Linked DNA regions of Homo sapiens: all the other regions are reported to be linked to region 3. Evidence: microRNA targets listed by miRTarBase, many of them from high-throughput screens and not tested one by one. Region 3 holds a microRNA gene; each other region holds the end of a gene's coding sequence.
What was found. The annotated mature microRNA hsa-miR-6882-5p reads UACAAGUCAGGAGCUGAAGCAG and lies in region 3 at 2,370-2,391, opposite strand. An mRNA with a match to its seed (bases 2 to 7 or 8) in the 3' UTR can be bound and repressed. Matches are read on the target gene's strand: a 7mer-m8 pairs with bases 2 to 8, a 7mer-A1 pairs with bases 2 to 7 and ends in A, and an 8mer does both.

Region 1: the mRNA of CITED2 is a reported target of hsa-miR-6882-5p. Seed matches in the 3' UTR shown: 7mer-A1 at 446-452.
Region 2: the mRNA of COX6A1 is a reported target of hsa-miR-6882-5p. Seed matches in the 3' UTR shown: 7mer-A1 at 3,676-3,682.

What each region holds. Positions count from the first base shown.
Region 1 is chr6:139,369,295-139,373,439 of GRCh38, reverse strand. CITED2 (Cbp/p300 interacting transactivator with Glu/Asp rich carboxy-terminal domain 2) reads left to right here. Exons shown (of 2, transcript NM_006079.5): 2 at 1-1,633. The coding sequence ends at 308. Among named protein-coding and RNA genes, the nearest start is that of CITED2, 3.3 kb to the left of the region's middle. RefSeq lists a silencer at 1-83 and an enhancer at 3,803-4,145.
Region 2 is chr12:120,440,183-120,444,327 of GRCh38, reverse strand. COX6A1 (cytochrome c oxidase subunit 6A1) reads right to left here. Exons shown (of 3, transcript NM_004373.4): 3 at 3,598-3,874. The coding sequence ends at 3,791. It overlaps TRIAP1 (TP53 regulated inhibitor of apoptosis 1), which reads left to right. Exons shown (of 2, transcript NM_016399.3): 2 at 1-364. Among named protein-coding and RNA genes, the nearest start is that of TRIAP1, 4.1 kb to the left of the region's middle.
Region 3 is chr15:74,838,312-74,842,456 of GRCh38, forward strand. It overlaps MIR6882 (microRNA 6882), which reads right to left and starts at 2,396; the gene lies at 2,331-2,396. ULK3 (unc-51 like kinase 3) reads right to left here. Exons shown (of 16, transcript NM_001099436.4): 2 at 3,969-4,109; 3 at 3,764-3,884; 4 at 3,094-3,198; 5 at 2,187-2,330; 6 at 1,923-2,005; 7 at 1,247-1,402; 8 at 957-1,062; 9 at 699-739; 10 at 332-434; 11 at 129-193; 12 at 1-33. RefSeq lists a silencer at 1,215-1,362 and an enhancer at 3,839-4,145.

The DNA.
Region 1 (4,145 bases), not on the chromosome of region 3:
GCTCGGGCGGCAGCAGCACCCCCGGCGGCTCTGGCAGCAGCTCGGGCGGCGGCGCGGGCAGCAGCAACAGCGGCGGCGGCAGCGGCAGCGGCAACATGCCCGCCTCCGTGGCCCACGTCCCCGCTGCAATGCTGCCGCCCAATGTCATAGACACTGATTTCATCGACGAGGAAGTTCTTATGTCCTTGGTGATAGAAATGGGTTTGGACCGCATCAAGGAGCTGCCCGAACTCTGGCTGGGGCAAAACGAGTTTGATTTTATGACGGACTTCGTGTGCAAACAGCAGCCCAGCAGAGTGAGCTGTTGACTCGATCGAAACCCCGGCGAAAGAAATCAAACCCCCAACTTCTTCGGCGTGAATTAAAAGAAACATTCCCTTAGACACAGTATCTCACTTTTCAGATCTTGAAAGGTTTGAGAACTTGGAAACAAAGTAAACTATAAACTTGTACAAATTGGTTTTAAAAAAAATTGCTGCCACTTTTTTTTCCTGTTTTTGTTTCGTTTTTGTAGCCTTGACATTCACCCACCTCCCTTATGTAGTTGAAATATCTAGCTAACTTGGTCTTTTTCGTTGTTTGTTTTTACTCCTTTCCCTCACTTTCTCCAGTGCTCAACTGTTAGATATTAATCTTGGCAAACTGCTTAATCTTGTGGATTTTGTAGATGGTTTCAAATGACTGAACTGCATTCAGATTTACGAGTGAAAGGAAAAATTGCATTAGTTGGTTGCATGAACTTCGAAGGGCAGATATTACTGCACAAACTGCCATCTCGCTTCATTTTTTTAACTATGCATTTGAGTACAGACTAATTTTTAAAATATGCTAAACTGGAAGATTAAACAGATGTGGGCCAAACTGTTCTGGATCAGGAAAGTCATACTGTTCACTTTCAAGTTGGCTGTCCCCCCCGCCGCCCCCCCCACCCCCATATGTACAGATGATAATAGGGTGTGGAATGTCGTCAGTGGCAAACATTTCACAGATTTTTATTTTGTTTCTGTCTTCAACATTTTTGACACTGTGCTAATAGTTATATTCAGTACATGAAAAGATACTACTGTGTTGAAAGCTTTTTAGGAAATTTTGACAGTATTTTTGTACAAAACATTTTTTTGAAAAAATACTTGTTAATTTATTCTATTTTAATTTGCCAATGTCAATAAAAAGTTAAGAAATAACTTGTTTTCTAGAAGTCATTTGGGGGTGGTTGTTCCCTTTGGTGGCTTTTTTCCCCCCGTCTTTGAGTTGAACACTATTGATGAGAGTAAGCATTCCAAAGGATAAATTACAGGACACTAAAACAGGTCATGATGAGCTTAAGCGGAGAGCAGGATTTAACATAATTGGCATAATGCTTCATTGTTATCATTGTAACATGCCTCTTGGTGTGCTTTAATCAAAAGCTGCAAAGTTGTCACTGCTTTTTTTTTTTTCTTAATTGCCATCATATCAAGTGTACTCCAGAGTTAGAAAGGTTTGCAATACTCAACATTATCTTTTTCAATGGGCAGGAGGCAAAAAAAATCAAGTGTTTCTGTTTATACCTGATTCAACTACTTAAATAGAGGTAGATTGGAATAATACACTGATTGATTGATGGGTGGCATTAAATATAAATCTACCTTTATCTCCAGTGATGAGAGTTTTATTTCTCAGCAAAAGTGCCAAGGATAGGTACATATTTTCTAGCGTAATCTCTGAAACAGTGTCTGACTGGTTTATAGTTCTGAGAAAGATGAGGCAGAATTCCACTTTGAGGCTTTTGTCCTATAATATTTAAAATGTACTCAGGTTGACTCAAAGGTCAAATTACAGTCTTTACAAGATGTTCCCTCTTAAGCATGCCCTGTTTTCCTGAATTCTGAGTTTTCCTGTTGCATGCATGGGATGCAAATCACCTGAAAATTATACTTTAATTTTACCTGGATAGATGTCTTATCAAGAAGACCATAGCTACAACTAAGTGGGTATCAAGTTTTGCCTTATATAATCAAGCAAAGGAAAAAGTAATATTGTGAAAATCTCAAATTATCCCAGGTGGAAGGAGAAGGAATTTTGTTTTTCATGTTTTCATGGCTTATCTTATGTTTATAAGAGCAACACACCTACCTTCAAGAAAAAATACAGACTTTTGTACGCAACTTACTAGGGGAAGTAAAAAATGTAGGTTGAGGAAAATCTTATAAATAATGCTTTAAAAGAACATTTCATTTAGACTCCGATTCTCATCTTAAATTCCATATTTTATAAGAAATCAGGAGGAGCGGATATTTAGAAGTGTTATGAGAGAGTAAGTTGGGCATAAAGGCTGCTTTAAGTATAATTCAGATCACCTGCATTTTATAATTTTATTTCCAAGGTAGGCCATGTAAAATTAAAATGCACACACTCCACTGGGTTTTTTATATACCTCTATAATTGACACTTTCTTCTTTAAAATTATGTTCAAATAAATATACTGAATCATCCAAAACTCTTTTTACCCTACTTTAAAAGCTGATCCAGATTTCCACATTAATAGTTAAAGCTGAAGTTTTCTTCAGCTAAGACATGTCAATACTAAATCTGCAATCAGCAATGAATCTTTCTGGCTAAGCATTTTCACAGTAAGTTTTTCTTTCTCTCTCTCTCTTTTTTTTTTCCAGAGGCTTAAGTGAAAAAATATGTTTGCATACATATTAATACAGCAACTCCAATCCTTTTTCACTAGTGCCAGGAAAAAAGGAAAGTGATTAAATGCATTTTTTTTTTTTTTTTTGCATAAAGAAGCCAAAGAATTGTCTTGCCACCACCCTTCACCATTTATTCTGCCAGGGAATAAGCCACAACACCTGCTCTGTCACTAAATTCCTCCTGCTGCTCAAACGCCGGAACACGTATGTGGAGATGCAGAGCCCAAGGAACTATTATTAGATCTTGAGCCCATCCCTACCAGAACAGAGGACTCAAACAGAGGAGCTGGGCTAAAAAGCACAATTTGTCTTCAGTACAAATACAAACGCTCCCGCACCCCAGTTCACTTGAGTGATCTCTGTTTCATTAAAAACTCTTTCTTGATCAACAATTGAGCAGATTCTACATGATATCTGCAGGTCTCTTAAGCAGAGAAAAATAACTCCTTGTTTCAACAACCTGATTAATGAAACCTGTACAGTGACCTAGATCACCCGGCTACTGGCAGACATTTGCAAAACCTTTTGTGGTCTTGCTTCCTACTAAGTTGCTTATAGCATATGGGGAAATTTGACCTCTGTACCTTGGCTGTTTGTCAAAAAGTTCTAATATGATACAAGAGAGCTTCTGTTCTTTAAGCTTTGCCCAAAAATAGACACTCCATGCTTGATTTTCAAGAAGAGATCAATGATAAGCTGCAGTGCAACCTCATAGCTACATGTCAGAAAAATAAGTCCACATTAATAAAAACGTATACTTCTGTCTTGTGCCTGATAAAATCCTCGTGACAGTATCTTTGCGGGAGCTGATAAAGACGTTAGAGCTATGGATGGGTCTTTGAAGAACAGTTACCTAATCACCACTGTTTATGGGGTGCTGGGCTAGAGCACTAGTAGCAGAAGGCTGACATCTATTGTGAAGTTTATGGTCTCCATGACTTTTACTACTGTAAACGCCTGGGATGGCTATAAATTGATGTCAACATTAAAGGCCAGATCCTTTAGAGAAAAATATTAATCCACTAATCTATTATGGGTGGCCAGCTTTGCAATAAAAACTTTGCAGCCCCGGACCATTAGGTGTTTTCGCCCCCTTGTGGAATTTATTTAGAAGGTCAATGAAAAGCTGTTTCCTCAAGAGCTTTTTCGCTTTTTTGTTTGTTTTGTTGCCATTTCTGAAGACTTTGTTTTCTTCTTTGAGCAAACAGCACATATTCGAGCAACACATTTTTTAAATCAAAGAAGATTCCAAAATAAACATCCTTTATAAAATAAGAATATTTTACTTACCAAAAACCTTAACCTATGATTAAGTGTGCATAATTGAGATTTGCCTCATATTTGAAAATATGCATTACCTAAGGGGTTTTCTTTTAAAAGTGTAAGGAGCAGTGGTTTGGGCTGATGCTTTAGCCTGCAAACTGAGGGGATGGCAAACCCTCAGCGCCTCCACAACAGGACTGTTGA
Region 2 (4,145 bases), not on the chromosome of region 3:
GAAGACAGCTTTTAACACAGTTCCCTGCCTTCACAAGAGGTGTCAGATTAAGATGTGAAAGCTGCAAGAATGTTGCAGTGAACACCATTTCAGAGCTCTCAGTGTGCAGTTCAGGAATTAAGATACTTGGAATAGCTGTGGAGGAAGAACCTAAATTGCAAAGATCTGCTATTGCCAGCTCTCAACCCAAGTCAGTGAATTGTCAACCTGCATATCCTAAAAATGTCAAAATGCTGCATCTGGTTAAATGTCGGGGTAGGGGGGAAGCTGAAGGTGCTCGCTTCATTTGCCTTGTTTACTCATCCTGCCCTGTAATGTCTGTAATCCTGAAGATGGAATAAATTGTAACATTTAGTTTCTATCATTATTTGCCTCTGGAACTCAGTGCATTTTATGGAACTATTACCCTGTTACCCTACAAACCTCATATATACAGTGGGGAGAGTTTTGTGTTTTGTAACTTAAAGGTGAAGAAAAAGTGACTTGTCTTAAGCTAGGTGGTACAGTATGGCAATCAGAAACCTCACATTTTTTTTTTTTGAGACAGTCTGGTTCTGTCACCCAGGCTGGAGTGCAGTGGCGCAATCTTGTCTTACTGCAAACTCCACCTCCTGGGTTCCAATGATTCTCCTGCCTCAGTCTCCCAAGTAGCTGGGATTACAGGCATGCATCACCATGCCCAGCTAGTTTTTGTATTTTTAGTAGAGATGGGGTTTCACCATGTTGGCTGGTCTTGAACTCTTGACCTCCCGAAGTGCTGGGATTACAGGCATGAGCCACCGCACCCAGCCAAAACCTCACTGATTTCTAAAATTTCCACAATAGGCTATACAAATACACTACGGTACCAAAAAAGGATCAGGAGAGCACTTACTTACCTCAGAATGTCACGTAATCCCCACAATTAATTGAGTAATTTGGTTTTATTAGATACCCAAAGTAGTATGAAACTTGAATTACAGGCCGGGTATGGTGGCTCATGCCTGTAGTCTTAACACTTTGGGAAGCTGGGATGGGCGGATCACTTGAGCTCAGGAATTTGAGACCAGCCTGGGCAACATAGCGAAACCCTGTCTCTACAAAAAAATTAGCTGGGTATGGTGGTGTGTGCCTGTAGTCCCAGCTACTCTAAAGGCTGAGGTGGGAGAATTACCTGAGCCTGAGAGGTGGAGACTGCAGTGAGCTGTGATTGTACCACTGCACTCCAGGCTGGGTGACACAGCAAGACCCTGTCTGAAAAATAAACCAAGAAACTTGATTTATAGAAGGCCCTAATTCTATTGTCTTTTCTCCACTTTACCAATTGCTACATCATATTTAATGTGACTTGTCCTTAATGTCATTTCAAAACATTCTTCATTTATATTTTATGACTGGCTAGGGTCCATTATCCAAGGATTATAAAAGATGTTTGGAACCCAGCCAAGGGAGGCCAGGCAGCAAGCTGAAGTATAATGCATCTGTCCTAAACTCAGACTGGCCACAACCAAAACAGCTCTATAGGGACTCAGAAGTGCAGGCTGTAATATTACAAAATGGCAAAGACAATGAGATTCTCTATTCCGTTAATTATTACAAAATGGCAAAGACAATGAGATTCTCTATTCCGTACTGTATATGCCTTACTTTTGCGTTACCAGTTTAATGTAATATAATATGAAATACCTTGTTGCCTCTTGAACCTTACCACGAAAGTGTTCCTTTGAGCCTTAAGAATAAACCAGCTGGCTGGGCGCGGTGGCTCACGCCAGTAATCCCAGCACTTTGGGAGACTGAGGTGGGCAGATCACCTGAGGTTGGGAGTTTGAGACTAGCCTGACCAACATGGAGAAACCCCATCTCTACTTAAAATACAAAAAATTAGCCAGGTGTGGTGGCACATGCCTGTAATCACAGCTACTCAGGAGGGTGAGGCAGGAGAATTGCTTGAACCTGGGAGGTGGAGGTTGTGGTGAGCCAAGATCATGCCATTGCACTCCAGCCTGGGCAACAAAAGCGAAACTCTGTCTCAAAAAATAAAATAAAATAAAATAAACCAGCTCTGGCCAGGCACAGTGGCTCAGACCTGTAATCCTAGCACTTTGGGAGGCTGAGGTGGGCAGATCACCTGAGGTTAGGAGTTCAAGACCAGCCTGGCCAACATGTGAAACCTTGTCTCTACTAAAAATACAAAAAAGTAGCCGGGCGTAGTGGCGGGCGCCTGTAGTCCCAGCTACTTGGGAGGCTGAGGCAGGAGAATGGCGTGAACCCGGGAGGTGGAGCTTGCAGTGAGCCGAGGTCCCGCCACTGCACTCCAGCCTGGGCGACAGAGCGAGACTCCATCTCAAAAAAAAAAAAAAAAAAAAAAAAATAATAATAATAATAATAATAATAATTGCCCTCTCAGAGTGGTTTTGTAACTACTACTACTACCATTTACTATCCATTAAAGCAGGATAGTTTTAATTCCACAGAAAAGCCAATAAGCAGAAATGTGTCACGCTCCCTTTGTTTCTCTTAAGATTTCTGACCCTACCAGCCCTGAAGGAGATTACCTCAAAGTAAGAACTTGACACATTCGAGGCCAGGCACGGTGGCTCACGCCTGTAATCCCAGCACTTTGGGAGGCTGAGGCGGGTGGATCACGAGGTCAGGAGATCGAGACCATCCTGGCTAACATGGTGAAACCCTGTGTCTACTGAAAATACAAAAAATTAGCTGGGTGTGGTGGCGGGTGCCTATAGTCCCAGCTACTCGGGAGGCTGAGGCAGGAGAATGGCTTGAACCTGGGAGGCAGAGCTTGCAGTGAGTGGAGATCGTGCCACTGCACTCTAGCCTGGGCAACAGAGAGAGACTCCGTCTCAAAAAAAAAGAAAAAAAAGAACTTGACATGTTCAAGAAAATTATGACTACAGGGAAGATTCTGCAGTAAATGCTAGTGGAATGGGACAGGAAAAAGATGAGACCCAGATCAAGCACTTCCTCTTGAGAAATACAGATACCTCTTTCAGGTGTAAATTGCAGGCATTCTGCTAGCCATTCAATGTCTTTGATATCTCAGGCCCGTCAAGGACCAATCTTTTGTTTTTTGAGACAGAGTCTCACTCTGTTGCCCAGGCTGGAGTGCAGTGGCACGATCTTGGCTCACTGCAACCTCCACCTCCCGGGTTCAAGCCTCTACACCCAGCTATAGGAGTGCGCCACCACACCCAACTAATTTTTGTATTTTTAGTAGAGACAGGATTTCATCATGTTGGCCCGGCTGATCTCCAACTCCTGACCTCAGGTGATCTGCCAGCCTCAGCCTCCCAAAGTGCTGGGATTACAGGCATGAGCCACCGCACCTGACCAAGGACTAATCTTGATGCTTAATTAGCACCACTCCACTTGGTCCCTTTATCCACATCAGGCACAATAAACCAAGAGGGGCTGTTATAAACACTTATTCAATGGGCTGAATTGGACCTGTAACACTAAACAGCAGCCTAGACCTTCACTGTGGAAACAGAAATAACTAATGCCAATTTCTTTTCAACTTGGACACTGACTTGAAGCTCAAATGCTAATTTCTGCGAAAAAACACAACCAAAGAAAGTAACTCTCAGCTCATGACCAATCTAAATTTAAGTTATTTATTTAAGCCATCTCCTGCCACAAGCAAAGGGATGGGAGACCAGTATACCAGTCATCATTTGATACAAGTAAAGAAGGTGAGCTTAAGGTCCCATATACTTTTTCTGGTCCATGTGCAGAGTAACGGTCCAAACCAGTGCTGTGGTCCCTGGTGCCCGGGTAGTGGTCCAGATTCTCTTTATTCATCTTCGTAGCCAGTTGGAAGTGGATTCACATGAGGGTTATGGAATAGAGTATGGTTACCATCTCCCCAGGGAAACGGCTGTGGAGTGAAGATGTCAGTTAGATAATTCCAGAAAATAATTTAGAAAGAACACCGTCATGAACTGCTTATAACGGGGTGACAGATCATATATAAAAACAAAATGGAAATTAGTCCTTTATCTACTGGTGTAGTTCAACCTTCCCATTATTTAAGGAGCTCTTATAACTACCAGGGGAGCCCTTAAAGTTATCCTGGCTACAGGACAGTTTTAATTCCAGAAACAAATATGGATGGCAGAAAATGCAAGCTCAAGTTAGTTACTCATCAT
Region 3 (4,145 bases):
CAGGGCATCCTGCTCCCCGCCGGCGGCCTCCTCCTGCAGCCACAAGGACACCAGGCTGCTTAGGGTCATGGCCTGGGTATCTCCCTGCCCTGCCCCGACCCACCTGGACCCCTCCCACTGGCACAAACCTTGGCCATGGCAGCTGAAGCCACTTCCAGGGCAGCTAGGAGGCGTGGCTTGTCCCGGGCCATCTCTGAGATGAGGGGAAAGGCTCAGGGTGAGGGAAGCAACCTGCCTGTTCGCTGCAGGATGCCTCTCCCCACCCGCCTCCCCCTCAGGCTGTGGGGAGGTTTGCTGGGGGCCCTGGGGTCAGCCAGAAACCGGAGTCTACCTCTGAGCAGGTCTCGGGCAGAGGTCCCCTGCCTCAGCAGGGCCTGATTGGAAGAGGAGACGATGGCCTTGAGCTCCTCAGCCCGGGACACGTACTGCCCCACCTGTAGCAGGGAAAGGGCCTGAGGAGGGGCTGTCTCACCAGCTACCCTTGCCAGAACCCACCTCCAAGTTCTCCCTTTGCATTGTTAGTGACTGCCTCAAGCTATAAACATGTCAGGGGGCAAATGTGGCTGGCCTGACCCATTCCCAGCTCTGTGTTGCAGGAGAGGAAGTTCCAATTCTAAGAGAGCCATTCCCCAGAGGCCCCCGAGATCTCCGGGCCTTACCCCCTGCCCCCCCACTTCCTCATGGGGACTCTCACCCACCTTTGCCTTAATTGCCTCCTTCCGCTGGGCATCCACTTCATCTGCAGAAAGTGAGGTCATATGAGGAGTCTGGGCGAACCCCTCCCTGCCCCACAACGAACCCTCTGGAATCCCTCAAAACACAATATTCCAGGTTTACGCTCTGCTTTATCGCCTACAAAATTCTAGATAGAGAACTTCTGGAATCCACCTACTGCAGCCACAGATGACTCCCATCCCTGCTGCACCCACGGGCTTCAGGCATGGCCTGGGACTCACAGTGCAGGGCAGGTACAAAGAAGTCCAGAGCCTTGCAGTAGAGTGATAAGGCAGCTGCTGAATCCCCCTCCTGGTCTTTCTTCACAGCCTGCACCACCAGGGCGGTCTGGGGATGGGCAGATCAGGGGTCAGGTCCACCTCCCTACCCTCCCACACTCACCAAGATGGGAGATCAGCTCCCCTGAGCCCGCCCTCTGTCTCTGTTGGGTGAGTCACCAATTCACCACCAACGGGGGCAAGGAGACCTCCAGCCCACCCTCAGCCCACCCCAGCCCCAGCCGTCTGCTCACTGCTCGCCCCAGACTCTCCCCACTGGGCATGTGCTCCAGGTCCACCCAGGGGTGCGCAAAAAAGTCCTGGAAGGAGATGCGACGGCTGGGGTCCCGCTCCAGGAGCCGCTGCAGTAGGTCCCGGCAGTCTCGGGAGAGCAGGGGCCGCAAGGGGAGCTGCAGGGAAGGGAACGGCAGGGACAGATCACACTGGGCTCCTCCACCCCTACCCCTAGCCCAGGGGTCTGCGAGGAACCCCAGAGGTACGCGTTGGACAGGTGGGGAATCTGAGACCGAGGAGGAACAGGATGGGTCAGGATGATGGAGCCAGCGGGGAGCGAGGCCTCCATCCCTGGGCTCCCGGTGCACCCTCGCTGGAGCCCTGAGCTGAGCTAGAATCGTGTTTCTGGGTCCTTATTTCCCTCCCTGGACTATGCTCCTAGGAAGGCTGGGCCTGGCTCTGCTTTGCATTCTCCCCACAAGGGCCTGCAAAATGGGCACTGTGCTGCCAGCTGTGGGCTGACCTGAGGCCCTGGGACAGCCTGGCACCTCGACTTCCAGCCTAGAACCTGCCCCTCCACCACAAAGGCAGCCTGGAGCCCATACTCCAGTCTCTGCAGGTCAGAACGAGGTCTAAACCCTCAGGGCCCTGACTCCCTCTGCCCCCCAGTGGTCGCTAAGGCCCTGCTAGACACACCTCGATGACCCGGTTGCTACGGATCTTCTCTTCCAGCTCCGAGAACGACCTGGAGGCAAAGGGGGGCTGCCCGAAGAGGGCTTCTGTGGAAGGGAGGCAGAGCGGAGGCTGGGAGGGAATGGGTCAAGCCTGGCCTGACGCCCCTCAGCAGGGGCCCTGGGCCAGCAGTCAGTTTTCATCAGAACCCTTCAGAAGTGGCCCAGAGAGGCCTTGCCTGAGGAAACTGTAGGCCTCAGGGTGAGAAGCAGGGAAAAGAGGTCTCACCATACAGGATGACCCCCATGGACCAGAGGTCCACGCGGGCGTCATACTGCCGCTGGCACACCATCTCGGGGGCCATGTAGAGGGGGGAGCCACGGAGCACGTGCTTCTCATCCCACGGGGACATGTGTTGTGCGAAACCAAAGTCTGCAGGCAAGAGGAGAGGCAGCAGGGCTTGAATTCCAGCTGCTTCAGCTCCTGACTTGTAAAGCCTCACCCCAGGCTCCTCTCCACCCTCCAGACCCGCCAGGATCAACCCTATTTCCAAGCCTCTGCTCATCATTAGGCTGGAACACCCTCCTATATCTGCCTCTGGGGTATAAAACCTACCCATCCTTCCCAGCTCCCTTGGGCACCTTTTCCTAGGAAGCCCACCTGATCACACCAGCTACCTGCATAAGCCCCCACCCTCTCACTGTCCCCCCAGGCTTAGGTTCTATCACAGTCTCTGGCCTCCAGTGTCAATTATCCAAATCTTATCAAGGGTCACCACCTCCTACTCCCCCACCACACCCCTCCTATGTGGCCACAGATGGAGTCACAGACTTGAGCCCCAATTCTGATGACAGACCAAGTCCTGTCCCTGCCCACAGAGGGATCCCTGATGCTTGTCACACGCTGAACCCTGGCACTGTTCCCAGATTGACCCCTAAACCTGGACACACAGTGAGTCCCAACTCTGGCCACAGACTGAGCCCTAACTCCACCCATTATGCTGCTGGACTTGAGCATGGGTAGCCTGAGAAAGCTTCCACCTTTTGATGACAGGGCCCAACCCCAGACTTCACGGCCTGTCACTCTTTGAGGACTCTATAGAGGGCTCCATAAGAACCAGGGCTGCTGAGTGAGCCCAGGCAGAGGGAGGCCTCTGCACTCTCCAAACCTCATCCCTGCTGTTTCAGACACAGACCTGCCAGTTTTAGGTGGGGCTTCTCCAAGGAGCTCAGTAGAATGTTCTGTGGCTTCAGATCCAGGTGAGAGATATTCCGTTCATGCAGGAATTGCAGGGCGCTAGCTGAGGAGCAGGACCCACGAAGAGAGACAGTTCAGAGCCCATTCCCGCCTGCCTCTCGCCTCCCCGGCTCACATCTGCCTCCTCAAGCCTGCACAACCCCAGTTCCTGCCTGGCTGGTCTAATGTTTTCCATATAAGCACCAAGATCACACCACTTCTAGGAGTTTGCCACCCCACCCGAGTGCCCACCCTCCTTCCCTCTGCCCCTTCACAAGTCTCCCCACCTCTCAGAAGCTTCTCTGGATGCCCCAGCCCTTGAGATCCTGCTCTTTTCCTTGGCACAGCACTTGAGTCCTACCTACAGGACTCTGGAATGTTCTACAAGGTCCTTATATTATGTTCTATGTATGGAAGCCTGAACACCCCACAGAGGGGTTACCCCCTCATCTCTCCCACAGCGTCCTTGAGCAAGGGTTGAGTGTATGAGATAAACAGGACCATAAAATTTCAGGCTGTGCAGGAGGCAGCTGCAATGCGTGCCAAGGCTCTAAGCCTGGGGGAGGGGTGGGATGGTGGGGGGCAGAGAACAAGGGACAGAGTGTCAGGCTGGTGTCACAGGCCTTTACCTAATTGCTGCATGAAGACACGCGCCACCTTCTCAGGCAGAATCCTGCGGGTATGGATGAAGCGAGACAGGTCGCCCCCTGCGCAAAACTCCATGATGAGGTAGATATTGTCACTGTCCCACTGTGTTTAGAGGCAGAGAGGCGGCCTGAAGAGAGTGTCCCTTCTCCAGCTCCCTTTGGCAGCGGCCCCGCCCCAGGCTCACACCTGAAAGTCTTTCAGCTGCACAATGTGGGGATGTCGAATGCCCTTGAGGATCTCAATCTCCGTGAGGAGGTTCTCCACCGATGCCTTGTTCAGACTTTTCTTGGCTACACACTTTATGGCTACCACTTCACGAGTGTCCTTCTGCGAGACAGGAGATTTGGGGACTCTGCCTTGAGG